Homo sapiens: one gene and its partners. The protein of the gene in region 1 purifies or fractionates together with the protein of each later gene. This does not show direct contact. Each region holds a gene or a part of one and is shown in the gene's direction. Other genes may lie near its edges. The genes, in order: ATP13A3, BRI3BP, RFT1, DIPK1A, ATP9A, VKORC1L1 and DPY19L1.

The links.
Region 2: the proteins of ATP13A3 (region 1) and BRI3BP purify together in Homo sapiens (affinity purification with mass spectrometry; one large-scale study listed by BioGRID and IntAct). This does not show direct contact.
Region 3: the proteins of ATP13A3 (region 1) and RFT1 purify together in Homo sapiens (affinity purification with mass spectrometry; one large-scale study listed by BioGRID and IntAct). This does not show direct contact.
Region 4: the proteins of ATP13A3 (region 1) and DIPK1A purify together in Homo sapiens (co-immunoprecipitation; one large-scale study listed by IntAct). This does not show direct contact.
Region 5: the proteins of ATP13A3 (region 1) and ATP9A purify together in Homo sapiens (affinity purification with mass spectrometry; one large-scale study listed by BioGRID and IntAct). This does not show direct contact.
Region 6: the proteins of ATP13A3 (region 1) and VKORC1L1 purify together in Homo sapiens (affinity purification with mass spectrometry; one large-scale study listed by BioGRID and IntAct). This does not show direct contact.
Region 7: the proteins of ATP13A3 (region 1) and DPY19L1 purify together in Homo sapiens (affinity purification with mass spectrometry; one large-scale study listed by BioGRID and IntAct). This does not show direct contact.

The regions. Positions count from the first base shown.
Region 1 is NC_000003.12:194,428,003-194,431,502, reverse strand, and holds part of ATP13A3 (polyamine-transporting ATPase 13A3), read left to right. Parts: intron 1-276; coding exon 277-399; intron 400-480; coding exon 481-560; intron 561-1,187; coding exon 1,188-1,230; intron 1,231-1,321; coding exon 1,322-1,431; intron 1,432-1,728; coding exon 1,729-1,825; intron 1,826-2,585; coding exon 2,586-2,658; intron 2,659-3,500. UniProt on the Homo sapiens protein: ATP-driven pump involved in endocytosis-dependent polyamine transport. Uses ATP as an energy source to transfer polyamine precursor putrescine from the endosomal compartment to the cytosol.
Region 2 is NC_000012.12:125,010,645-125,014,144, forward strand, and holds part of BRI3BP (BRI3-binding protein precursor), read left to right. Parts: intron 1-1,889; coding exon 1,890-1,992; intron 1,993-3,500. UniProt on the Homo sapiens protein: Involved in tumorigenesis and may function by stabilizing p53/TP53.
Region 3 is NC_000003.12:53,102,936-53,106,435, reverse strand, and holds part of RFT1 (man(5)GlcNAc(2)-PP-dolichol translocation protein RFT1), read left to right. Parts: intron 1-632; coding exon 633-763; intron 764-2,338; coding exon 2,339-2,483; intron 2,484-3,169; coding exon of another isoform or gene 3,170-3,222; exon of another isoform or gene 3,223-3,241; intron 3,242-3,500.
Region 4 is NC_000001.11:92,846,463-92,849,962, reverse strand, and holds part of DIPK1A (divergent protein kinase domain 1A), read left to right. Parts: intron 1-2,603; coding exon 2,604-2,780; intron 2,781-3,500.
Region 5 is NC_000020.11:51,607,891-51,611,390, reverse strand, and holds part of ATP9A (probable phospholipid-transporting ATPase IIA), read left to right. Parts: intron 1-1,225; coding exon 1,226-1,290; intron 1,291-2,764; coding exon 2,765-2,873; intron 2,874-3,500. UniProt on the Homo sapiens protein: Plays a role in regulating membrane trafficking of cargo proteins, namely endosome to plasma membrane recycling, probably acting through RAB5 and RAB11 activation. Also involved in endosome to trans-Golgi network retrograde transport.
Region 6 is NC_000007.14:65,956,566-65,960,058, forward strand, and holds the end of VKORC1L1 (vitamin K epoxide reductase complex subunit 1-like protein 1), read left to right. Parts: 3' UTR 1-2,993; downstream 2,994-3,493. UniProt on the Homo sapiens protein: Involved in vitamin K metabolism. Can reduce inactive vitamin K 2,3-epoxide to active vitamin K, and may contribute to vitamin K-mediated protection against oxidative stress.
Region 7 is NC_000007.14:34,932,986-34,936,485, reverse strand, and holds part of DPY19L1 (protein C-mannosyl-transferase DPY19L1), read left to right. Parts: intron 1-3,500. UniProt on the Homo sapiens protein: C-mannosyltransferase that mediates the C-mannosylation tryptophan residues on target proteins.

The DNA.
Region 1 (3,500 bases):
GTTTTAAAGTACAAGAATTCCAGATGTTTATCGTATTCTTCAGGTAACTAGTGGTAAATGATGCAGGTGGTCCATCATACTCAGTTCATGCATCATTTCAAATTGAAGCTGATATTTAATTGAGTTTCTTTTTACTTTGAATAAATGTCCGGCTTTCATCATGTTGTGGAACATATCAAATGAAAGAATTCAGTTTTAGAACAAATATGTTTAAAATAGAATTGTTTTACTTGGTTTGGTTGCCTAAATATTGTTCCCAATGTCTCATATACACAGGCTATTCCGGTTAAATTGGTCCATGATAGCTTAGAGGATCTTCAAATGACTCGTTATCATTTTGCAATGAATGGAAAATCATTCTCAGTGATACTGGAGCATTTTCAAGACCTTGTTCCTAAGGTAAGTAATTTGGGTGTATGTGTGTGCTCACATGAATGCATCGCAACAGTATTTTAAAAAAATTTGTATTATTGTTTCCAGTTGATGTTGCATGGCACCGTGTTTGCCCGTATGGCACCTGATCAGAAGACACAGTTGATAGAAGCATTGCAAAATGTTGAGTAAGTATTGGTGTCTTTTTTGGTTTTGGTTTTTGATGAATGATGGTTTCATTTCAGCATCAGAAAAATAATTTTTATATGTTTCTTATACTAATATTTCATATTTATATATATAATTGTGATCTATAAGATAGTTCAGAACTTTAAGTGCCGCTTTAAAAGAGTCTCATGTGCTTTTTATTTAGCTAAAGTACAATATCCACAGTTTTTTCTCTATGACTTCATTCTTTCAGGTGCTCTATCTTGATAGAAGTGGCTAATCATTTTAGTAAACAGTTATGTTTCAGGTTATTAAGGGATAAATTTTTACTGATAACGTTAAAAGTAGCCATACTAAAGACTGTAGGCACAAGCGCTTTGCTCTAAAGATGAGGAAATTGAGACACCAAAATGATTTGCCGATAATGTGACAGAAATAGGACAATAACCTAGCTCATTTCACTTGTGGTCTGGTGCTGTTTGCAAAGCAGCACACCTGTGTTCATTATAGTGAAAAGATTCATAGTTCCACTGGGGGAATCTTGGTGTGTTAGCTCTTTATAATACTGTAATAGAAAAGTCTTAATAAGTTAAATGTTTTGTAGTTTAAGAAATTAATTAAAATCTTAACATTGTTTTGTTTCTTAGTTATTTTGTTGGGATGTGTGGTGATGGCGCAAATGATTGTGGTGTAAGTATAGTTTTTGTGATTTAGTTTTATAGTTCTTACTCTAGCCTAAATCATATTCACAAAACTTAACCAGTTTTCTTAAAATTATTAGGCTTTGAAGAGGGCACACGGAGGCATTTCCTTATCGGAGCTCGAAGCTTCAGTGGCATCTCCCTTTACCTCTAAGACTCCTAGTATTTCCTGTGTGCCAAACCTTATCAGGTAGTACAAATTAAAATTTTTCTCATCCCTTTTTCTCTGTCTCTGATAATACAGAAGAGAAAATTATCATAAAAAGTAACATGAATTTGTTTAATATTAGCAGATTAGCACATTTGAGCTGTAACTTATTAGTAACAGATTGATTGCTACTCCTCATTTGGTTTAGTTCTTTTGGTGGATAAGCACTTTGTTGTAGCCGTTGAATGTTGATGTTCATCTGTCAAGATAAAATTGTGGTTTGGAAAAGGAGTTTAAAATGCTTCTATTCATATGCCGACATTTGATTTCTTTTCACAGGGAAGGCCGTGCTGCTTTAATAACTTCCTTCTGTGTGTTTAAATTCATGGCATTGTACAGCATTATCCAGTACTTCAGTGTTACTCTGCTGTATTCTGTGAGTATTAACATTGTGTGCAGAGATAACACTTAATGTGCACCGTAAATTAAGATGTTGAGCGTATGTGTTTGATTTTGAATGCATCCATTAGTAATTGTTTCTGTGAGTAGTACCTATAAATTTACCTTCAATTTACTGTAGTTTGAATAGCAAATTGAAAAAGTTAAAATGAGAAAAGATGTTTCAACAGTGGTTTGTTGAATTTGGAGAATGGTTTGCATTTGGAGAAAAAGTATAAACAGCGATGGCCACAGGTACCCTATCAGATTTTATAATCAAAGTGTTCTGACATCCTAAAGACTCATGGTGACACTATCCCATTTGACCGTTTGTAGAAAGTATCAGAAGGGATGGTATTAGATGAAGATACTAATTTACAACGTTGAATATTTTGAGTAAATGTTTGTGTTTTCTTTTTGCCAAAAAAACCATGTTGGCCAGGGTGGTCTCGATCTCTTGACCTAGTGATCTGCCCGCCTCGGCCTCCCAAAGTGCTGGGATTACAGGTGTGAGTCACCGCGCCCAGCCTATTGAACGAATTTTAAGGAGATGCCTTTTATACTAATATACTAAATCAAATATTTATAAATATATGTTATATTTAGTTTCAGAGACACTTATATTTCAATTTTTAAGCAGGTCCGAGTGTCATTTTTAAGTTGTCATTATAGGGAAAATCCAAACTATTAATAAAACCTGGGGACGCTATAAAAATAATTCCCAAAAACTAATAATGTTTTTAAAATTACTTCTGTAGATCTTAAGTAACCTAGGAGACTTCCAGTTTCTCTTCATTGATCTGGCAATCATTTTGGTAGTGGTATTTACAAGTGAGTATTTTGCTTTGTTATTGATTTTTAAAGTGTATGAAATTCTGATGTGACTTATTAAATTTTTGTAAATTTACATCAACAATTGTAACATAGCTCACACCTCTCCAGATTCCTTGTAAATATGTTATTTTATTACCAGTTGTTTATATCTTGCGCCAATTTTTTAATTGTTCTGTCTCTATTTTTTTCCCTGAAATATTTGAAAATAAGTTTTGAGTCATTATGCTCTTTTGCCTCTGACAATTTTAGTATATATTTTCTAAAAGCAAAACCATTCTTTTATGTAACTAAATACAGTTGTAAAGATCAGGAAATTTAACATTGATATAATATCTGGTGCAAAACCTATATTCAGGTTTTGTCATTTGTGTCAACAATGTCCTTTATGCCTATTTTCCCGTAGTCCCCTAGATTAGAACAAAAAATATCTCCAGACATTGCCAGATGCTCCTTTGGGGTGCAAAATCCTCCAGTTGAGAACCACTTATCTTTAGTAGATGATAAAACTAGTGAAAGTTTGATGAGGAGCAGGATTTTCACAGTCTCAAAGTATCTTTTCACAAGGTGCTAGTTACAAAGGGAAAAATAGAAATTTCTTTTTTTCTTTTTTTTTTTTTTTTTGAGACAGAGTCTGTCTCTGTCACCCAGGCTGGAGTGCAGTGGCACGATCTCAGCTCACTGCAACCTCCGCCTCCCGAGTTCAAGCGATTCTCCTGCCTCAGCCTCCTGAGTAGCTGGGATTACAGGTGTGCACCATCATGCCCTGCTAATTTTTATATTTTTAGTAGAATCGGGGTTTCACCATGTTGGCCAGGCCAGTCTCTAACTCCTGACCTCAA
Region 2 (3,500 bases), on another chromosome or scaffold:
GCATGCCTGTAGTCGCAGCTACTCGAGAGGCTGAGGCAGGAGAATCACTTGAACCTGGGAGGAGGAGGTTGCAGTGAGCCGAGATCGTGCCACTTGCACTCCAGCCTGGCGACAAAGCGAGACTCCAAATAAAATAAAATTAAATTAAAACATAAAATACTGTAGCTGCCCGGGTGTGGTGGCTCACGCCTATAATCCCAGCACTTTGGGAGGCCGGGGTGGGCAGATCACCTGAGGTCAGGAGTTCAAGACCAGCCTGGCCAACATGGTGAAACCCCGTCTCTACTAAAAATATGAAAATTACCTGAGTGTGATGGTGCGTGCCTGTAGTACCAGCTACTCGGGAGGCTGAGGTGGGAGGATTGCTTGAACTTGGGAGGTGGAGGCTGCAGTGAGCCGAGATCATACCACTGCACTCCAGCCGGAGTGACAGAGCGAGACCCTGTCTTAAAAAAAAAAAAAAAAAAAAAAAGCTGTAGCCAATTCACGGAGGCATTTACCCTTCACACGTGAGCCGAGTGGCCCATGTAGGTGGGTTCTATTATGGCAGCACTCTGCGTGATGCAGCCCTGCAGAGTCCCAGCCCCCATAGATACCTTGGTCAGCCCTTACAAGGGAAGGGGCGTGTTTTACTCAGTTTTGCTCAGTTGTTGGGCTGTCATCAATTAGTATCAAGTTCAAGTTAATCCCCTGGGCCAGTAGACCACTTGGTGGCATTCATCATGGGCTCGCTGTTTTTTCCCCTGTAATAGCCAAGGCTGGAAACCATGTAGGTATCCATGAGTATGGGCCTGGCTCCAGGTGTACCATGTTTAAAAAGGATGAGGCAGCTCTGTGTGGTCTGAGTGTGAGTATCTCCAAGACAGAGTGTTGCATGAGCAAAGCAGCTCAGCTGTACACCTGTGCTGCCATTGCAGAAAGAATATGTCTGTGCCATTATTCACCTGGCACGTCTAAGGAAGGGTTCCTCCGGAGGGGGATTCCAGTTGCCAGGAAATGAGAGGGAAGGCTTAGTCTCCACTGAATACCTGTTGGTAGGCTTGAGTTTTATGCTACATGTATACAATATCACTAATTTTTTAAAAAAAAAAGTTAAAATGAGGCTGTACCTTGTATTCATGTTTCTTTAGCCCTGTGTCACCTGGAGGGCAAATAAAGACCTCAGAGGCTCAGGGTCCTTAGAGTTGGATAGAGCATGGGGCTGTATCATTACCAGCTTCCTTGGAGCAGAAACTTCCACTCTTTAAAAATGAGAAACCCGCAGGGTGCGGTGCAGTGTTTCACGCCTATAATCCCAGGACTTTGGGAGGGCCAGGCAGGAGGACTGCTTGAGGCTTAGAGTTTGAGACCAGCCTGGACAACATAGCAAGAGCCCATCTCTACAAAATAATAATAAAGCCTGGTGTGGTGGCTGCACCTGTAGCCCTAGCTACTTGGGAAGCTAAGGCAGGATTGCTTGAGCCCGGGAGTTTGAGGGTGCAGTGAGCTATCATTGCACCACTGCACTCCAGCCTGGTCAACAGTGAGACCCTGTCTCTTTAGAGAAATCAGGCAGAGGAAGGCAGAGATCCTGACCCAAGAGGAAGCATGAAAGACAGCAGGAGCAATGGCAAGCGGCGTAACGCGGCCCTGCAGAGAGTCCCAGCCTCCATAGGTGCCTTGTTCAGCCCTTGCAAGGAAGGGGTCGTTTTCACCAGTTTTTCTCAGTTAGGCTGTGATCAGTACCCAGTTCAAGTCAATCCCCTGGGCCAGTAGTCCACATGTGTGGTATTCATCATGGGCTCACTATTTTTCCCTTCCCAGGTATAAACTCCCAAGCTCCCCAGTTCACTGCTTGACTGATGGAGGAAAACAGTGATTGGGTGATGACCGTTTTCTTGTTTCTGCAGTTCTTGGCCAGGCTGACTGAGAGATTTGTGCTGGGAGTGGATATGTTCGTGGAGACACTGTGGAAAGTCTGGACCGAGCTCTTGGATGTTCTTGGACTTGACGGTAGGTGTAGGGGTGGCATTCACGTAAGGTGTCATTCTATTTTGGTGGTTCTCATAGTGTGGAACTGGTACTCACAGTGAGTAATACATGAGAAGGTTGCGGAGGGCTGGTCAGTGAGGATATGAGTGAACATTTTTTATTTTAATAGTCTCATATATAGGCCAGGCATGGTGGCTCATGCCTGTAATCCCAGCACTTTGGGAGACCAAGGTGGGAGGGTTGCTTGAACCCAAGAATTCAAGACCAGCCTGGGCAACATGGTGAGATCCCATCTCTATAAAAAAAAAGTACAAAAAAATTGCTGGGTGCAGTGATGTGCACCTGTAGTCCCCATCCACTTGGGAGGCTGAGGCAGGAGGATTGCCTGAGATGAGGAATTCGAGGCTGCAGTGAGCTATGATCATGCCACTGTACTCCAGACTGGACGACAGAGCAAGACTCCTCTCAAATAATCATAAAAATAAAAAACAAATGGCCCATCAAAGCTGAGATTTCCCAGATGCCACTTAGGATAAGGTGCGACTGGGTAGTGGGAGTGCCAATTTGTGTGCAAAACACATGGACCAGAGGTATAGTGCTCTGGCTTACTGGCATCCGTGCAAGAAATGACTAGTTATTTAGGCAGAAGGGGATTTCATGAGACAGAGACACTCACAGAACCATCAGAAAGGCTGAGGAAGAGATGCATGGCCTCAGACACTGCCGAACTGGCTGTCCAGGGTTGCAGCTGTTGAAACCGTTGAGTTCGAAGTCACACAACTGTAGTATAATTTGAGGACCAGGAGGCCACTGCTGCCGCCACAACAACTAGACTTTGCATGTGGGTGCAGGGACCCTTGCCATTTCTGGAACCATGCATATCAGCTGCAACACTTCACTTAATTTCCAAAGTCGTGTGTGTATGGGGGAACTGCCAGGTGGAACTTACTTTCTGTCCAGTCCCTAGCTGCGAGGGAGGCAGGCTAATGCGGTTCTTAGCTCTCCAGCTTCTGCCATCCAGGAAGGCAGCCTGGGAGCAGGTGTCACCTGATGCTGCACCAGCCCATCCACCATACCCACCGCACAGGGCAAGAATTGCCAGGGGAGCTGGCCCCTGGTTTTGTGGGCTAGGGGAGGAGGGTAGTCCAGTTTGATAGTGCAGTGCTAGTCACACGTTTATAATCAGGAAGAGAACATTGGTGAGGCACGGCCCCTCCCTTTCTACATGTGGGAGGGGGCACTGATACTGGTCTTGGCGGATGGCAAGGCAGCAACGGTCATGGTAACTGAGCTGGGCACTCCTAGTCCAGTCCTGCAGCCTGTGCTACCCCCAGCCTTACACTCCCCTTCCCAGGTGGCTCTGCCCCACCTCCACCTGCATTCCATCGGTGGGTGACAGGAGCTAACCCGGGCAGAGTGCCCAGGGTGTACAGCTTTTATACCCAGAGGAGACCTTGTCCCTTACCGCCTTAAGAGCTTCAGAGGCATCCCATGCTCTCAGGATGAAGTAACCTTCCCGTTTTCTCTAC
Region 3 (3,500 bases), about 140 Mb from region 1:
AAAACATCAACTTTGCATTAATGACCTGTATAAGAAAGTACTGTTGATGGAAGCATTCTGTATCTTGACTGTATCATCGTTGGTATCCTGGTTGTGATATTGTACTATAGTTTTACAAAATGTTACCACTGGGTAAAGGGTATATATGGGATCCCTCTATTACTTCCTATTTTTTTGTCTTTTTTATTTATTTTTTATTTTTTGAGACAGGGTCTCATTCTATTGCCCAGGCTGGAGTGCAGTGGTACCATCACAGCTCACTGCAGCCTCAACCTCCTGGGCTTGGGTGATCCTCCCACCTCAGCCTCCCAAATAACTGGGACTACAAATGCACACCACCACGCCTGGCTAAATTTTTCCATTTTTGTAGAGACAGGGTTTTTCCGTGTTTCCCAGGCTCATCTCAAACTCCCTGGCTCAAGCAGTCCACCCACCCTGGCCTCCCAAAGTGCTGGGATTATAGGCATGAGCCACCGTGCCTGGCCACTATTACTTCTTATAACTCTGTGTGAATCTATAATTATCTCAAGATAAACAAACTTTAATGAAAATATTAAATAATTTTAATAGTGCTATAAAAATTAAAATAGAAAAACCAACATGATTGTTGTTTCTTCTTTTTTGTTTTGTAGGTGTGTATGATATAGTGAATAATCTTGGCTCCCTTGTGGCCAGATTAATTTTCCAGCCAATAGAGGAAAGTTTTTATATATTTTTTGCTAAGGTGCTGGAGAGGGGAAAGGATGCCACACTTCAGAAGCAGGTAATGTTGGTTCTTATGTCATCTCTCAAGTGAATTCTCCCTTTAATTGCAAGACAGACAGGAGTGTGAAGCAGTCTGTTTCTCTTCTGTTTGATCAGGAATTTTCTTATAGATTTCATTCTTCTATTACATTCTTCATGATAGTGGGACCCAGGGCTCACCTCTTCTTTCGTGGCCTTCTTGCTTTGCTCTTGGCTGTCCCTTCCTTCTCACACCTTTGTTATTCGTTGTGACCTTACTCTTTTTGGGGGGGGGGGCGGGGATAGAGTCTTGCTCTGACGCCCAGCCTGGAGTGCAGTGGCATGACCTCGGCTCACTGCAACCTCCACCTCCCAGGTTCAAACGATTCTCCTGCCTCAGCCTCCTGAGTAGCTGGGACTACAGGCATGCGCCACCACACCCAGCTAATTTATGTATTTTTAGTAGAGATGGGGTTTTGCCATGTTGGCCAGGCTGCTCTTGAACTCCTGACTTCAGGCAGTCTGCCCACCTCAGCCTCCCAAAGTGCTAGGATTACAGGTGTGAGCCCCCATACCTGGCCATGTGACCTTACTCTTGATCCAGCCCTCTCAGGACTCTAAAGCTGTCCCCATTGCCCTGCAGATGCCCAGCCATGGGCTAGTCTTAGGCGTAAGAATGCTTCCCTTATCCTCAGAGTCTCAAGAGCCAAAGGATGCAGAAGTTGGAGCCAGGCTAATCAAGGGCATAGGGAGGAGAGGAAGTGGTTGTTGGCTTTCGCTCACCACACCAATTATTTAAGCTTCTTACAACTGGGACATGCCCAGAGCTACACTCTGACTGTAAGATTCTGTATACTCGGGTTGGTAAATACAGAAGAAGAGATTTTAATCTAGGAGTATTTTGTTGTAGGAGCTTCACTTTTTCCAAAACCACTGAAAATGTCTGACTTTTCTTAGAATAGCAAGCTAGTTCAGCCTCTTGCTTGTCTTAGAAGAAATTTAGTAAAATACAGTTTATGCACAATATCTCAAAATGAGCTAATCTGGTACTCAGTCTGATTTAGGAATATTTTCCTAAGAGTACCTTCACAGTATCATCATAATTTTGGAATGTTTAGCAGGAGAAGCACAGAGCTGGCTAGTGTATATGAAAACTTGCTGCACATTTAAGAATAAATATTAGTGGTCTGGTGCAGTGGCTCATGCCTGTAAGCCTCACGCTTTGGGAGGCCAAGGCAGGAGGATTGCTTGAGGCCAGGAGTTTGAGATTAGCCTGGTCAACATAGTGAGACTCCCTTCTCTATTTCTATTTAAAAAAAAAAAAAAGAACAAATATCAGAGGGGAAAGTGAGTGTTTCCTAAGCAATATTTGAAACAATTTATCCCAAGTGAATTGAAAACTAACCCTCCCCCTTACGACCTAAGGAGACACACACTTTTTCCTTCATTTGCTAACTGACGTGAAAACAAACACACTACAAAAAAATAGTGATATCCATCACGCTGTTGGAAGAGTGAACTGTAAAACAGTGAAGGGAGAAGGCCAGACGTGAAGGATGAAGGTTTTCTTCAGCTCATGATTCATCCAACTTCCTTCCCTCTTCCCTGGCCCCAGGAGGACGTTGCTGTGGCTGCTGCAGTCTTGGAGTCCCTGCTCAAGCTGGCCCTGCTGGCCGGCCTGACCATCACTGTTTTTGGCTTTGCCTATTCTCAGCTGGCTCTGGATATCTACGGAGGGACCATGCTTAGCTCAGGATCCGGTACGCACAAGAGTTTTTCTGGATTTTTTCTGATTTCCCAACATAAATAGAAGAGTCACGAAATTCAAGAACTTGTGCACACACAGTTGTTATCTGTGTCAGTGTAGGGAAAACTGTCTGGTGGCAGGGGCTGTGGGACTGTTCCCCTCGTTCAACTCCAGACACACACTCAAGGTATAGGCAGGGGCGTTGGCGCCAGGACAATCAGCTTCCCCAGCCTCACTTGGAGAAGTTATTAGGACTTCTCCTTGCTGTTGGCTTTCCTCTCGGGCCTAGAATGTGTTTTGCCAAGCGCTTCCCTGTGCTCCCTCTGGGGTGAGGGAGGAAGGCAGAGGGCAGACGGTAATGAGTCTCCACTTGGTACTAAACACATCTGAAGATAGTAAATGCCACATAAATCTCCCAGCCTAGTGCATAAAAGCCTCTGAAGGATAACCCAAAGCCATTTGCAGAGAATAAAATTGATCTCTGCAAATAAAATGGTATATTTAATCCAGTGACTCTCAGTTTTTGAAGAAGAAAAGTATTGAATGTGTCTAATTTTGAAACACCAGGCCGCTGAGGATCTCACAGCACTTGTTAGGTCTTGGGGACTTCATCAATTTCAAAATGTGCTGGGCTGTAAGCTGGCAGTCCATTTGCAGTGCTTCATCTTGGGTTTAGCAAAGATGTTTTTAATTTCTCAGGTCGCTGGACAAGAACGCTGAGGACTTCTTTCTGCTGCCCCATCTCAATATAAAGGGCTTTGTCAAATGCCATTTTACAAGTTCACTAGCATGTTTTAGTCTCCACTACAATGGGGCCCAAACTTTTGGTGTTAGGGGAGGAAGGGCCAGGTTTCTATACCAGAGCAAAGGTCATTAAGTTTGGAGAAACACCTGCTGTGAAACCAGTGAAGTGGTTTGCAGCTCCCTGGGGCTTGTGCTGTGAGAAGTGTATTTCCATCTGGCAGCTGTGGGGAGGCCTCATGAGGAAGGCATTAGTAAGTTTATGGGCAGAGATTGGGAACTCGACTAT
Region 4 (3,500 bases), on another chromosome or scaffold:
ATACAAACAGCCGGGCCCGTGGCACGGGCCTGTAATCCCAGCACTTCAGGAGGCCAAGGTGGGTGGATTGCTTTAGTCCAGGAGTTTGAGGCCTACCTGAGCAACATAGCAAAACCCTGTCTCTACAAAAAATACAAAAATTAGCTGGGTGGCCAGGCACAGTGGCATACACCTGTAATCCCAGCACTTTGGGAGGCTGAGGCGGTAGGTCACTTGAGGCCAGGCATTCAAGACCAACCTGAGCAACATTGCGATACCCCCTCTCTACTAAAAACACAAAAAATTAGCCGGGTGTGGTGGCACATGCCTGTAATCCCAGCAACTCCAGAGGCTGAGGCACAAGAATCGCTTGAACCTGGGAGGCGGAGGTTCCAGTGAGCCAAGATCTCACATCACTGCACTCCAGCCTGGACAATAGAGCGAGACTGTCTCAAAAAATATATATGTATTAGCTGGGTGTGGTGGCACACACCTATGGTCCCAGCTACTCGGGAGGCTGAGGTGGGACAATCACTTGAGCCCAGGAGGTCAGGGCTGCAGTGAGCCGTGTTCATGTCACTGCACTCCAGCCTGGGTGACAGAGTGACACCCTGTCTCAAAAAAAAAAAAAAAAACAAAAAAAAACCAGACAAGATTGCTTCCCTTACAGACCTTACATGATTCCAGAGGGACAGGAGGTACAAACAGTTGATAAATAAATAAATAAACAAACAAAATAATTGTAGAATATGGTGTGTTCTGTAGGAGACACAGAGGGCAAATTGATAGAGAATGCAGTGTAAGGGATGGTGAGAAGTGCTTTAGAGGATGTGATCAGAGAAGACCTTTCTGAAATAATATTTGAACTTATACCTTAATAAAAAATTCATAGGCATGGGAAAAGGACAGGATGAACTAAATCACAAAAGAACTGCAAACAGCTGATGAACATAATGAAAAAAAATTCTACCTTACTTTTCATCAGAGAAATAAGAATAAAACAGTAGAATATCTAATTGGGGTAGAAGAAAATACAACGAAACATCTGGAGCAGTGGAAAATTGCATTTTAATGTTCATCTTATGGTTCCTAAATTTTCCTATATAAATATGCATTATTATTATAGAAATTTAAACTAATTTTTCAGTTGACAGTATTAATCATGTTAAAGACAATTTCTAAAACAAAGTCCAACATTTGAGTGTCTCCTGCATGCCAGGCACTGTTTGAGGCACTGAGGGAGACAGATAAAGCCTCTGGCCTCATGTTCTAATGTGAGATGAGACAGATAGTAATGAACTGATAAATAAATAAATATGATAATTTTAGACAGTGCAAAAGGCTATGAGGATAATGAAACAGGGTTAGAGGTGACCTGGGGGTGGAAGAGGATCTCTTCTAGACAGGGGGTCAGGGAAGGCTTTCTAAATGCAATGTCTAATCTGAGACTTGAATGATGTAAAGGAGCCAGCCATGTGAAGATCTGGGAGAGTACATTCCAGGCAGAGCCAGCAGCAAGTGAAGCAGGTCAGGAAGCAGAAACAAGCTTCAACCTGTCACAGAAAGACCAGTGTAGCTGGGACTTTGAGAAACGGAGTACGTGGTACAAGATCAGGTTGGAGACATAGGCGAGGCTAGCTCAAATGGAGCCCAACCGGTCATGGAAAGGACTTTGGACTTTAATTGAAAGGGGAATTTATTAGAGGGTTTGGAGCAAGGCAGTGAAATAATGTTTTCTTTGGATTAATATTAAGAATGAATATGATCTTATTTATTTTTTTATGTAGAAGAGGGGCAACCTATCCTAGTGGTAAAGACCTCAGCTCTTTTCAGCATGTTACTTCACCTGTATCTGCTTCAGTTTCCCCATCAGTGAAATAAGTATAATGATAGTACCTACCACCTAAGATTGGTACAAGGATTAAAATAATAACATAAATCAGTAAAAGCCAGGTGTGGTGCCTCATACCTACAATCCCAGCAACTTGAGAGGCTGAGGCAGGTGGGTCACTTAAGGCTAGCAGTTCAGGACCAGCCTGAGCAATACAGCAAGACCCCATCTCTACAAAAAATGTTTTTAATTAGCCAGGTTTAGTGGTACATGCCTATAGTCCTGGCTACTTGGGAGACTGAGGCAGGAAGATTCCTTGAGCTCAGGACTTTGAGGCTGCAATGAGCTATGATTATGCCACTGAACCCCAGCCTGGGTGACAAAGCAAGACCCTGTCTCTAAAATAAATTAGTAGACCATAGGACATAGTTAACACTATATAATATTAGTTTGATAAATAACTAGATACTTAAATAGTAGTTAATTCTGGGGAAGTGGGATTATGGAAGTAGAATGTCTGGGAACTTTGCTTTTGCCTTACATCCTTCTCATTGGACTTTTTGAAAAATATATTTAGGCATGCATTACTCTTATAATTTAAAAAATTAGTTTAAGGAAAAAATCTTGAGTGTGATTTCAAGTTTGCAGTTCAGAAATAAAGTCACACCTTAACCTCAATGTTTGATGCTTGTTTTGTTTTGTTCAGAGGAGGAGGACCCTAAAAATATAGTAGTATATTTTTTAGAGTTTTCTACTCAGTATAATACATAACTTGCCACTCTTTTTTACATAGATGTATTTAGGGATTTGGGATAATCTACCAGGTGTTGTGAAATGTCAAATGGAACAAGCGCTTCATCTTGATTTTGGAACTGAATTGGAACCAAGAAAAGAAATAGTGCTATTTGATAAGCCAACTAGAGGAACTACTGTACAAAAATTTAAAGAAATGGTCTATAGTCTCTTTAAGGTAAGCATACCCATTCATATGTTGCTAGTGTGAAGTGGGACTCTTTAGAGGAATTGGCAGGACCTCATCCTAAGCCATTAAAGTGTTGATATTCTTTGACCTCTATCAGATTCTCCATCCTGAGGAAATAATTATAAGAGGCCGGGCGTGGTGGCTCACGCCTGTTATCCCAGCACTTTGGGAGGCCAAGGCAGGAGGATCACTTGAGCCCAGGAGTTCAAGTCCAGCCTGGGCAACATAGTAAGACCTCAGCTATATATATATATATATACACGTATATATATATATACGTGTGTGTGTATATATATATATATATATACACACATATATATATACACACATATATATATATATATATATATATATATATATATATATATATATATATATGCCAGGAGTGGTGGCATGTGCCTGTAGTCCTAACTACTTGAGATGCTGAGGTGCGAGGATTGCTTGAGCCTGGGAGGTCGAGGTTGCAGTGAGCCAAGATCTCACCACTGCACTCCAGCCTGGACGACAAAGTGAGACCCTGTTTCAAAAAAAAAAAGAAAAAGAAAAGAAATCTGTGTTGGAGAATGTTTACTTTAACATTATTTATGATAGCTAAAAATGTCCAGATATGAGGAGGGAGTTCATTAATTAATTGGAGTGCTGTACAGTTTGACATGAAAATTAATTCAAAAAAGGTGAAATAAAATGAGTATACTCTTAGAATTGTGG
Region 5 (3,500 bases), on another chromosome or scaffold:
TTCTTGACATTTTTACAACCATCCTTCCTAAGCAGCGGCACAGCCTGGGTGAAAAGTCACTGGAAAAGTGGCTTTTCCGGCGCAGCCAGGGCGAACTGGGGCTTCCTGTGGCCATGGCGCTCAGGATCACCTGCGCTCTGAGCTCTGTGCCGAGAAAGCACGTGTTTCTTACATGCTTTCTCTCTGTGTCCATTGAAGGTGCTCTGGGGAGCTAGCCCTGGTCTGATGCTATTTCTAATGACTAGGGTATCTCTGCCTTGCTTTCTTCTGCTTTCTAAAAGCTTTCAGGCAGCATTTGTCTCTGGCCTTCCTTCAGCTTTATATGAATGGATATCAGCTTGGAGACCGTGTTTCCTCTGTTAGCCCATAGAGGTCCAGAGATGGAGCTAACAGAGCTTCAAGCCTGATTGGATCTCCCCAGCCTATTCATCATTACCAGCAGCTAATATTTTCCAAAGCAGGAAGCAGACATTTCCGCGAGGGTTTGTAAATATCTTCATTGCTTTTGTCTAATTGCAAAAATAATCTGTCACCATGCTCTTTTCAAAAATTTCCCCAAATACCGAAACATGTAATATAAGAAGTGAAGCCTTTTCTGCCATCCCAGCCCCCGTAGACACTTCAGAGGCTCTTTTTCTGTATGTGTTTCCATACCTACGGCACTTTGGTTAGCAGCGTGCATGCCTACAGAGGTGAGGATTCCGAGCTGTTTAGAAGTGTGGCCACAGAGCTGTGGCCACAGCTGGGCTTGAGTCCCATAGGGCTGTTTACCTGCTCAGCCTCCCCTTCTGTAAAGTGTGGGTGATAGTAGGGCTTGATCCTGTGGGCTGCTCTGGAGATCAGCTGTGCTCATGTACAAAGCATTCCTGGGTCCTGGAACTTAATAAATATTCACAACAGGCTGAGTAGACCCTGGAGCTGTGATACATCACCCTACCCGGGAATGATTCCTAGATTTGCTGCTTAGGAACTGTGTGGGCTTGGGCAAGCCACGTACCCTCTCTATGCCTCACTTTCTGCTTTGCATAATGAGGATGATGAGAATCGTACCTACTTCATAGGGTTGTTGTTGATGTTGTGAGAATGAAATGAGCAAATCCATGTAAAGTACCTTACAGCAGTGCCGGCGCGGGTGTTATGTAAGTATCAGGTGTTATTTTTATTCTGTAAATGTAAGGGATTTTGTCATGACTTTTGGTGACATCCTCCTCTCTCCTTGGCACAGGCTGTCTTTTCCTCCGTGTTTTACTTTGCCTCCGTCCCTCTCTATCAAGGATTCCTCATCATTGGGTAAGGAAATCCTGCCAAGGAATTAATTGTTTACAAAACCTTCTTCAAATGCTGCAACAGAGAGAAGAAACGTGGTGGAAAAATTCTTGGGTTCCCAAGCCACATTGGATTCCCAGCCCCAGCGAATGCAGGCCCAGCACCATGGTTTAGAACCTCCTTCAATTAACAAGGTTTTGAGCTGTTAAGCCCTTAACCAGATGGAGGAAGTGGAGTTGGAGATGTGTGTGGTGTGTTGCACTTTGCCATTTGTACCTGGTCTTGAAAAAATACTCCAGAGTTATCAGTTGATTGAGGAGAGCAAGGTGGAAGGTTTGCAGACTTGGTGATTTCACTGGGGTCTTAATAAAAAGGGGTGGGGGATCTGAAAAATGCCCTCCTGGCCTGAACTGAGCCCAGTAGAAGTCCCATCCTTGGAGCTCCAGGGAGGGCCAGAGTCCACTGCCTCGGGGATGTGCAAGTAACAGAGCTTGGCTGCTGTGCCACAGTGACAGAGATGGTGTCACTTGGGCCTTTGCAGCCTGCAAACCCACCCCCATTACTGACCTGGAACTTCAGGATGATCCTTCTGACCTTTTCAGAGAATGTGCTCAGTCTCTGAATCACCCAGGTAGGTGGAGTTTGGTTACCGAGTGCCCTAGATACAGACACATGCAGCTGAGGCCACTTCTGGTTATGAGGAGACGGCGGGTGCGGGAAGGTCAGCTGCGCTCTGGAGAGTCTCACAGAGTCCGCTTTCCATCCTACTGTGTTGGCTGATGAGTTCAGCCTGAGAGGAGGCACTAGAATTCTGCCTGCTTCTAACTGGAAAAGCGGGCTGTCTTTCGTCGGGTTCTGGAAGAGTACAAGAACATTACAGAATATAGTCAGGGGTTCCCTGAGCTGTGCGCCGTGCGACCTTCCGTGGTCTGGTCCCATCTTTCCCGTGGGTCCTCATTTCCTCTTCCGTCGCCCTCAGCCCCAGCCCCACTGGCCTTATGGCTGTTCTTCAGACATGACAGCCACTCCCGCCTCAGTGCCTTTGCACTGGTGGTTCCTTCTCCCTGGAATGCTCTTCCTCCTGGGATTGGCTTGGCTGGCCCTCACCTTTTGTGGGTGTTCACTCAAATGTTCTGTTCCTCAGCCTCTAAAATTGTACCATCACCCCCTACACACACACACACACACACACACACACACACGTCTTATTTCCTCTACCCCATTATATTTTTCTCTTTAGCACTTCTCTAACACACATAGAGTTTACCTAATTTATTTGTTTATTGACTCGCTGACCGGGATGAAAGCTCTTCAGGGCAGACATTTTTGTCCATTTTTGCTCATGGGTTTCTGGTGCTTACAGCCAGCCCCGGAGCATAATAGACAAGCAGTAAATATTTGTTAGAGGCATGGTTGGGACTTGGGTGCCGGAGGCTGGCACAGCACATAGCTCCTATCGCGTCAGCCAGGTCTTACCTATGGCGGTTTTCTCTCCCAGGTACTCCACAATTTACACCATGTTTCCTGTGTTTTCTCTGGTCCTGGACAAAGATGTCAAATCGGAAGTTGCCATGCTGTATCCTGAGCTCTACAAGGATCTTCTCAAGGTTCTGTTAGCTTTTCAGTCCCTCCTTCCTCCTTTCCTCCTTTGCTTTTCCCTTCCTTCCCTCCCTCCCTGCTTTTTTTCTTTGAATTTATTTCACACAGACCCTCCAATTCTGATTTGAACACACTTGAACTGGTAGCTTTTTTACTTTTGGGGGGAAGGTGTGGGAGTTTACATTTTTTCTTAAAGCAGTAATATATTCACTGGTATAAAGAACGTGAAAAAGTACAGTAATAGATAAACTGAAAACAAGCCAACTCACGACTTGCAAAAAGCCCCTGACAGTTCCGCTTTGCAGTTGCAACTTAACGTTTGCTCCCAGAGATGTTCTTGTGTACAGTTCCAAAAAGTGTGTGTGGTGGCGTGTGCCTAGGCAGGTGTATAATTTTATTTGTCTTCAGGGTTTTTTACCCAAGGGAAGGTTTATTCCCATGTAATGTTAATTTTAATGTTAATTCTTTTTTTTTTTTTTTTTGAGACTAATTCTCACTTTGTCACCCACGCTGGAGTGTAGTGGCTCGATCTCGGCTCACTACAACATCCACCTCCTGGGTTCAAGCGATTCTCCTGCTTCAGCCTCCCGAGTAGCTGGGATTACAGGCGTGCACCACCATGCCTGGCTAATTTT
Region 6 (3,493 bases), on another chromosome or scaffold:
CTATGGCCCAGTCGAATTAATACCCTTTTTCTCACTGAGAGAGGAACACGTACTGCCTGTCATAACAGCATTGTAATGCCAGTGTCTCAGTAACAGAATCCTGGTGGGTGTTAATTGGGTGTTTTTTGCCCTGGAGAATTCAGATTCCTTTCTATACCTCCGATTCTGCCCAGAAGAGGGGGGGAATCACCAGTGTTACAAAATTAGAAGATTGTTTTGCCTGTTTTAGACTGAATATTTGAACACTGCAGCATTACTAGCCACCAGTGTTAAAGGACAGATGAGGGGAAACATTTGTTTTTAGCAGTAATTCCATGCCTCATCTTTTTTAAGTGATTTGTTCCAAATGAAGCCATTTATTGACTTGATGTTCACAAATATCATTTGAAGAAATAACAGGAATTGGGGTTAGATGATAAATTCTAGGGAATCTAGGTGATTTGGAGGATTTCATTTGTTTTGCATTACAGCTAGTTGCTCTCACTAAAGGTAAATTTCCGGTGAAATAACTCAGGTTTAACTAGCTGTGTGCCCAGAATCACTGTTCCTTCATACATGTGTCCTCTCCTTAAATTCATTACTTTCAAATGATGTTCAAAGCATTGACTATTTTCATTCAAAGAAACTACATTCGGCCGGGCACGGTGGCTCACGCCTATAATCCCAGCACTTTGGGAGGCCGAGGCGGGTGGATTACCTAAGGTCAGGAGTTCAAGACCAGCCTGGCCAGCATAGTGAAACCCCATCTCTACTAAAAATACAAAAATTAGCCAGGCGCAGTGGCACACCCCTGTAATCCCAGCTACTCGGGAGGCTGAGGGAGGAGAATTGCTTGAGCCCGGGAGACAGAGGTTGCAGTGAGTCAAGATCATGCCACTGCACTCCAGCCTGGCCAACAGAGCGAGACTGTCCCCCCCCCAAAAAAAAAAGAGAGAGACTGCATTCAAAGAGGACCAAGACTACAGTGAAATTAAAACTGTTTGCTGGCTGGGCATGGTGGCTCACACCTGTAATCCCAGCACTTTGGGAGGCCGAGGCGGTTGGATCACCTGAGGTCAGAAGTTCGAGATCAGCCTGACCGACATAGTGGAACCCTGTCTTTACTAAAAATACAAAAATTAGCTGGGCATGGTGGCGGCACCTGTAATGCCAGCTCCTCCAGAGGCTGAGGCAGGAGAATTGCTTGAACCCAGTAGGTGGAGGTTGCAGTGAGCCACAGTTGCGCCATTGCACTCCAGCCTGGGCAATGAGTGAAACTCTGTCTCAAATAAAAAAATAAAAATAAAAACTATTTGTTGACTTTTGTTTTTCATTTAGTTTTGGAAAAGACTATTTGCAAAAGTACAGAGTTATCTTCAGCAATTACTTCACAACTTAGATTGGTACCAAGAGTGACAGGAGATCTTGTCTTGGAAGATCATTATTAGATGCCAACAAGGAGACCCACTGTGATTTCTGGTAACCTATTTGGGGAAAAAGACCTAATGACCTAATATGCAATTTCTGTCCTCGTGTCTTTTTCTCTAACACACAGTCATGGGTGAAACATTTCAGACACCTCAGGCAGCACTTATGGTTTCTAATTGTGAGAACTACCCTTCCATCAAACAAAAAGGGCAAGGGTGGGAGCCCCGGCTACTTGGTTAAACATTTTTTACTACAAATTCGCCCAGAAAAGGTGAAATATTTTGTTATAAAACTGTATTAAGCATGGCCTAAGTATTTATTAGGTATATGATCTGTGTAGTATGTTCCATCAGAAATATTTCTTACTAGTGCTTTAAGCTCCAGAGTAAACAGTCATTTAAAATGGAGTTCACTGGGCAGGTTTCCCCTTTAATCTAGATAGAAATACTCTTTATCAGAGATTTAAGGCACTGTTTTGCTAACTGGTAAATAAAACCAAATGTAAATATGTAAGAATGTTTATTTGTTGCACATAACTTTTTTGGTATAAAATAAATGTAGAAGTTACCTGTGGAAGTTGTGCTCCCATTATTCTTAAACTGCAGGGTTGCATTCCAAAAGAACTGAAACGAAGTCTTTTTAGACTCAGTAGGAGCCTTATATTCTTGAAGTCAATACTGTAACCTCATTTCTAAGGTATACAGGGTTGATTCTTTTTCTCTTAAATCATATGTAACTTGCAGAAGATTCAGAGTCCTCAGACCTCTAGTTCTTGGAATTCCTGTAGGTTTACGGTGTATGTGATTGTCAAGAATTAATGACAAAAATGTGTCACTGCCTACAGTTCTGTGAACACTCAGAATGTATTAATGAGCTGTTTTTCCATAGTTTTACTTTAGCTTACCTTGAATACTCCCTGTATAATCCTCTAAAAAGGTAGCATCGGCAAGAAAGATGAATCCGTTGGAAATACAGCTGAGCCATACTTCACGGAATAGAACAAGTGTGTTCTGTGCTGGAGCTCAAGACCTGTGGAAAGGGACTGCCCCCACTGGGTGCAATGGCTCATGCCTGTAATCCCAGCACTTTGGGAGGTAGAGGCGGGTGGATCACTTGAGGTCAGGAGTTCAAGACCAGCCTGGCCAACATGGTGAAACCTGCCTCTACTGAAAAATACAGAAAAATTAGCCAGGATTGTGGTGTGCGCCTGTAATCCCAGCTATTCAGGAAGCTGAGGCAGGAGAATTGCTTGAACCAGGGAGGCGGAGGTTGCAGTGAGACGAGATCACGCCACTGCACTGCAGCCTAGGCGACAGAGGAAGACTCCAGCTCAAGAAAAAAAACAATGGACTGCCCCTAATTTGTAAACCATTTAAATGTGTCTATTACATTTAACTTTTCTTAATGTTTGTCAACTAAAAGTTTTATTCATTATACTTTGACATACTGGAACACAAAACTTGATTCCTTTGAAAAACTAAAGAGAAGTTGATAAAAAAAATACAGAAGCTCTAGATTCCTAATTGGAACTGACTACACTCATTTTTAAAAAATGGACGATGCCTAATAAAACCACATGAAATTAACTTTATTCTTTCTTTCATGGAGCTTGCACAGGAAAGCTAAAAAGGAGGGTCTGTGTGGAGACACGGGGCTCAACCACAAGAGAGGGGAAAATCAAGTTCTATAGCAAGAACCATATTGGAGGCCGGGCACAGTGGCTCACGCCTATAATCCCAGCACCTGGGGAGGCTGAGGCGAGCAGATCACCTGAGGTCAAGAGTTCGAAACCAGCCTGGCCAACATGGTGAAACCCCATCTCTACTAAAAATATTTTTAAAAATTTAGCTGGGAATGGTGGCAGATGCCTGTAGTTCCACCTACTTGGGAGGATGAGGCAGGAGAATTGCTTGAACCCCAGAGGTGGAGGTTGCAGTGAGCCAAGATTGCGCCACTGCACTCCAGCCTGGGCGACGGAGCAAGACTGTCTCAAAACAAACAAAACAAACTGTATTGGTTCATTGTCTTTCAACTGACTGGACACCAAAAGGAGTATTTTTCCAAAGCGTATACTTCAAATCAGAAT
Region 7 (3,500 bases), on another chromosome or scaffold:
TTCTTTGGGCTTCACTCTCTTGAAACAACTGTAAGTTACTGGAACATAAAAATAATTTTCGTAACCTTTTTTCTCCAAGCTAACAATGAGCCTTTGAGAGTTCATATTCTGCCTAGACCCCTGCATAGAGTTTGAATATGTGAAAGTTGCAGAGGCTTTGTGCTGTAGAGTGTTGGGAGAGCTCCCTGGATTTGCATAGCTCTAACAGTCTCATGTTTGGGTAGGCAGAGCACTGTTTTACCCACACAAGAAGGGATATGAAGGCAAATTCAGGATGTATGGCAATAAACTTTGCACACTAAACAAAATCAGCAGACATTGAACTGACTTCAAGTCACTTACGAGCAATCAGACTGAGAGTTGGGGTGCAGAAGAGGGTGTGCTGGATTTCCCCATCTGGACCTTGACTTGCCATTTATTGTGTCTGTCACAGCAGGAGTTGAGTGGGAGGAAGCTACGAAAGTGACTCTCTCATCTGTTTTCCCCACTCATTAAAACAACACTCTCCATCTAGTACAAGATCTAAGCCAGGCTGATGACACACTGTCAGGAAACCTTGGACAGGTCCACTCTGCTTCAACCTTGACACAAAACAAAAGCTGTGCTTTCTGTCCTGACAGGGAAGCAAATGGGGAGTTCAGATAGGAGAGGAAAGTGAAGAATGACTAATATTTATCTAGTGTTTACATTTAGAGTAGGAAGTTTCTTGACAAAGCTTTCTGCCTGGTTTGGGACCTTCCTTATTTCCTTGGCCTTCACTCTCCATTTCAGTTATGATCAGCCTGAAACCCCTGTAGATTGCTGGGACGTGAAAGTATGTTGGAATGGGGGAAGCAGATGGGGAACTCAGTTAGGAGAGGAAGGGGAAGAGGGACCAATATTTATCTAGTGCTTAATCTGTGCCTGGCAATTGGTGAGCACTATGTTTAAATGATCTCATTTACAAGTGGCTTAATTGTATGGCTTGATTATTCCTTAAATATTTGACACTGTGTTTAAATATAAACACTCAAATATATTTGCATGCAAGTTGTAGATTAGTTTTAAATTAACTACAGTTCTCTGCTTTCTTTTACTCCAATAATAGAGTTGACATAGAATACATGTATTTAGAAGGAAATTATTCAGATTTTCACTAATGCTATTTGCAGATGGCTGGCCTGGGGAAACCTTGGGAAACTCAGATGAGGACTAAATAGTGTTGCACAAGGCAAACAGAGCTCCCCAAGACAGCTGTTTGCCCTCTCTTTTTCCTAAAAGCTGTTGAACTCAGGAAAACTGTGGGTCGTTCTCTACTTTCTGTGTGTCTCACTCTCTGCCACCGTGGGCCCTCAGTGTTGTAACAGTTCAGCCTTGACGTGTATGAGAAAATTACAAGGTAGAAAACCCATGCCCAGCCATATGATCATAGGTGTTCCATGTGAGTAGAAACCAGTGTCAGCAAAGGTGTGCAAAAAGTGTGCACTTGAGCCCTCTTCATGGGAACACTCACTGGCAAAACATTTCTAGGGGATAGTTTGATGAAGGGAAGGTAAGAAAAAAATTGTGCAGTCCTTTGGCAGAGTGATAATGTTGCCTCTAGAGCAGGGGTCTCCAAGCCCCCGGCCATGGACCAGTACTGGTCTGTGGCCTGTTAGGAACCCAGTCTCACAGCAGGAGGTGAGCGGAGGGTGAACAAGCATTACAGCCTGAGCTCTGGCTCCTGTCAGATGAGTGGCAGCATTAGATTCTCATAGGAGTATGAACCCTATTGTGAACTGCACATGCGGGGGATCTAGGGTACGTGCTCCTTATGAGAATCTAATGCCTGATGATCTGAGGTGAAACAATTTCATCCCAAAACCATCGCCCCCACCCTCCAGCCCATGGAAAAATTGTCTTGCAGGAAACCAGTCCCTGGTGCCAAAAAGACCGGGGACCGCTGCTCTAGAGGTTTAGTTTGCAGAAGGGAGCTCTGCACAAGACTGTTTGTAGCTGCATTGCTTTATAATGGCAAAATGGGAAACAATTAAAGTATCTGTCTGTAAAGAATTGGTTAAATAGTACATATGAGAACTAGCAGCTTTTAAAAACAGTAGAATAGATCTTTATGCACTGAGATGGAAAAATGGTTCCACGTTTTATTGTTCAGTATACAGTCCCAGAATAATTCCATTTTTGTAAAAACAACTCAAGAGCATCTGCCAGGGTTTTCCAGAGGGACAGAACTAATAGGATAGATGTGGCCGGGCGCGGTGGGTCACGCCTGTAATCCCAGCACTTTGGGAGGCTGAGATGGGCAGATCATGAGGTCAGGAGATCGAGACCATCTTGGCTAACACGGTGAAACCTTATGTCTACTAAAAATACAAAAACTTAGCTGGGCGTGGTGGTGGGCACCTGTAATCCCAGCTACTCAGGAGGCAGAGGCAGGAGAATGACGTGAACCTGGGAGGTGGAGCTTGCAGTGAGCCGAGATCACACCACTGCACTCCAGCCTGGGCGACAGAGGGAAACGCCATCTCAAAAATAAAAAAAGGATAGATGTATATATGAAATGGAGTTTATTAAGGAGTACTGACTCACACGATCACAAGGTGAGGCCCCACAATAGGCCATCTGCAAGCTGAGGAACAAAGAAGCCAGTCTGAGTCCCAAAACTTCAAAAGTAGGGAAGCTGACAGTGCAGCCTTCAATCTGTGGCTGAAGGCCCAAGGTCCCCTGGCAAACCACTGGTGTAGACCCAAGAGTCCAAAAACTGAAGAACTTGGAGTCTGATGTTCAAGGGCAGGAAACATCCAGCACAGGAGAAAGATGGAGGCCAGAAGACTCAGCCAGTCTAGTCCTTCCACAATTCTTTTGCCTGCTTTTATTCTAGCCATGCTGGCAGCTGATTAGATGGTACCCACACAGATTGAGGGTGGGTCAACCTCTCCCAGTCCACTGACTCAAACATTAATCTCCCTTGGCAACACCCTCACAGACACACCCAGAAACAATACTTTGATCCTTCAATCCAATCAAGTTGACACTCAATACTGACCATCACAGCATCTATGTATATAATGATATCTGTGTCTGTATGTGTGTCTGACATTGGAGAAAGATACAGCAGATAGCAAATATTGTATGTTCTCACTTATAAGTGGGAACTAAGCTACCAGGATGCGAAGCATAATAATGGTACGGACTGTGGACTCGGGAAGCGAGGAGTGGGGTGAGGGATAAAAGACTACACATTGGGTACACTTTACACTGCTCTGGTGGTGGGTGCACCAAAATCTCAGTAACTGCCACTGAATAACTTATCCGTGTAACCAAAAACCACTTGTTTCCCAAAAGCTATTGAAATAATTTTTTTTTTTTTAAAAAGGTCCAGCAGGATATATGCTGGATTGTTTATAGAAGTCACCTCTGAGAAATGCTATTGGAGATGATGGTGACTTTCATTTCTTAAAATGTATGTAGGTCTATATTTTGATACTTTTATAATGACTGATTATTATAAATTAAAGGTGTTA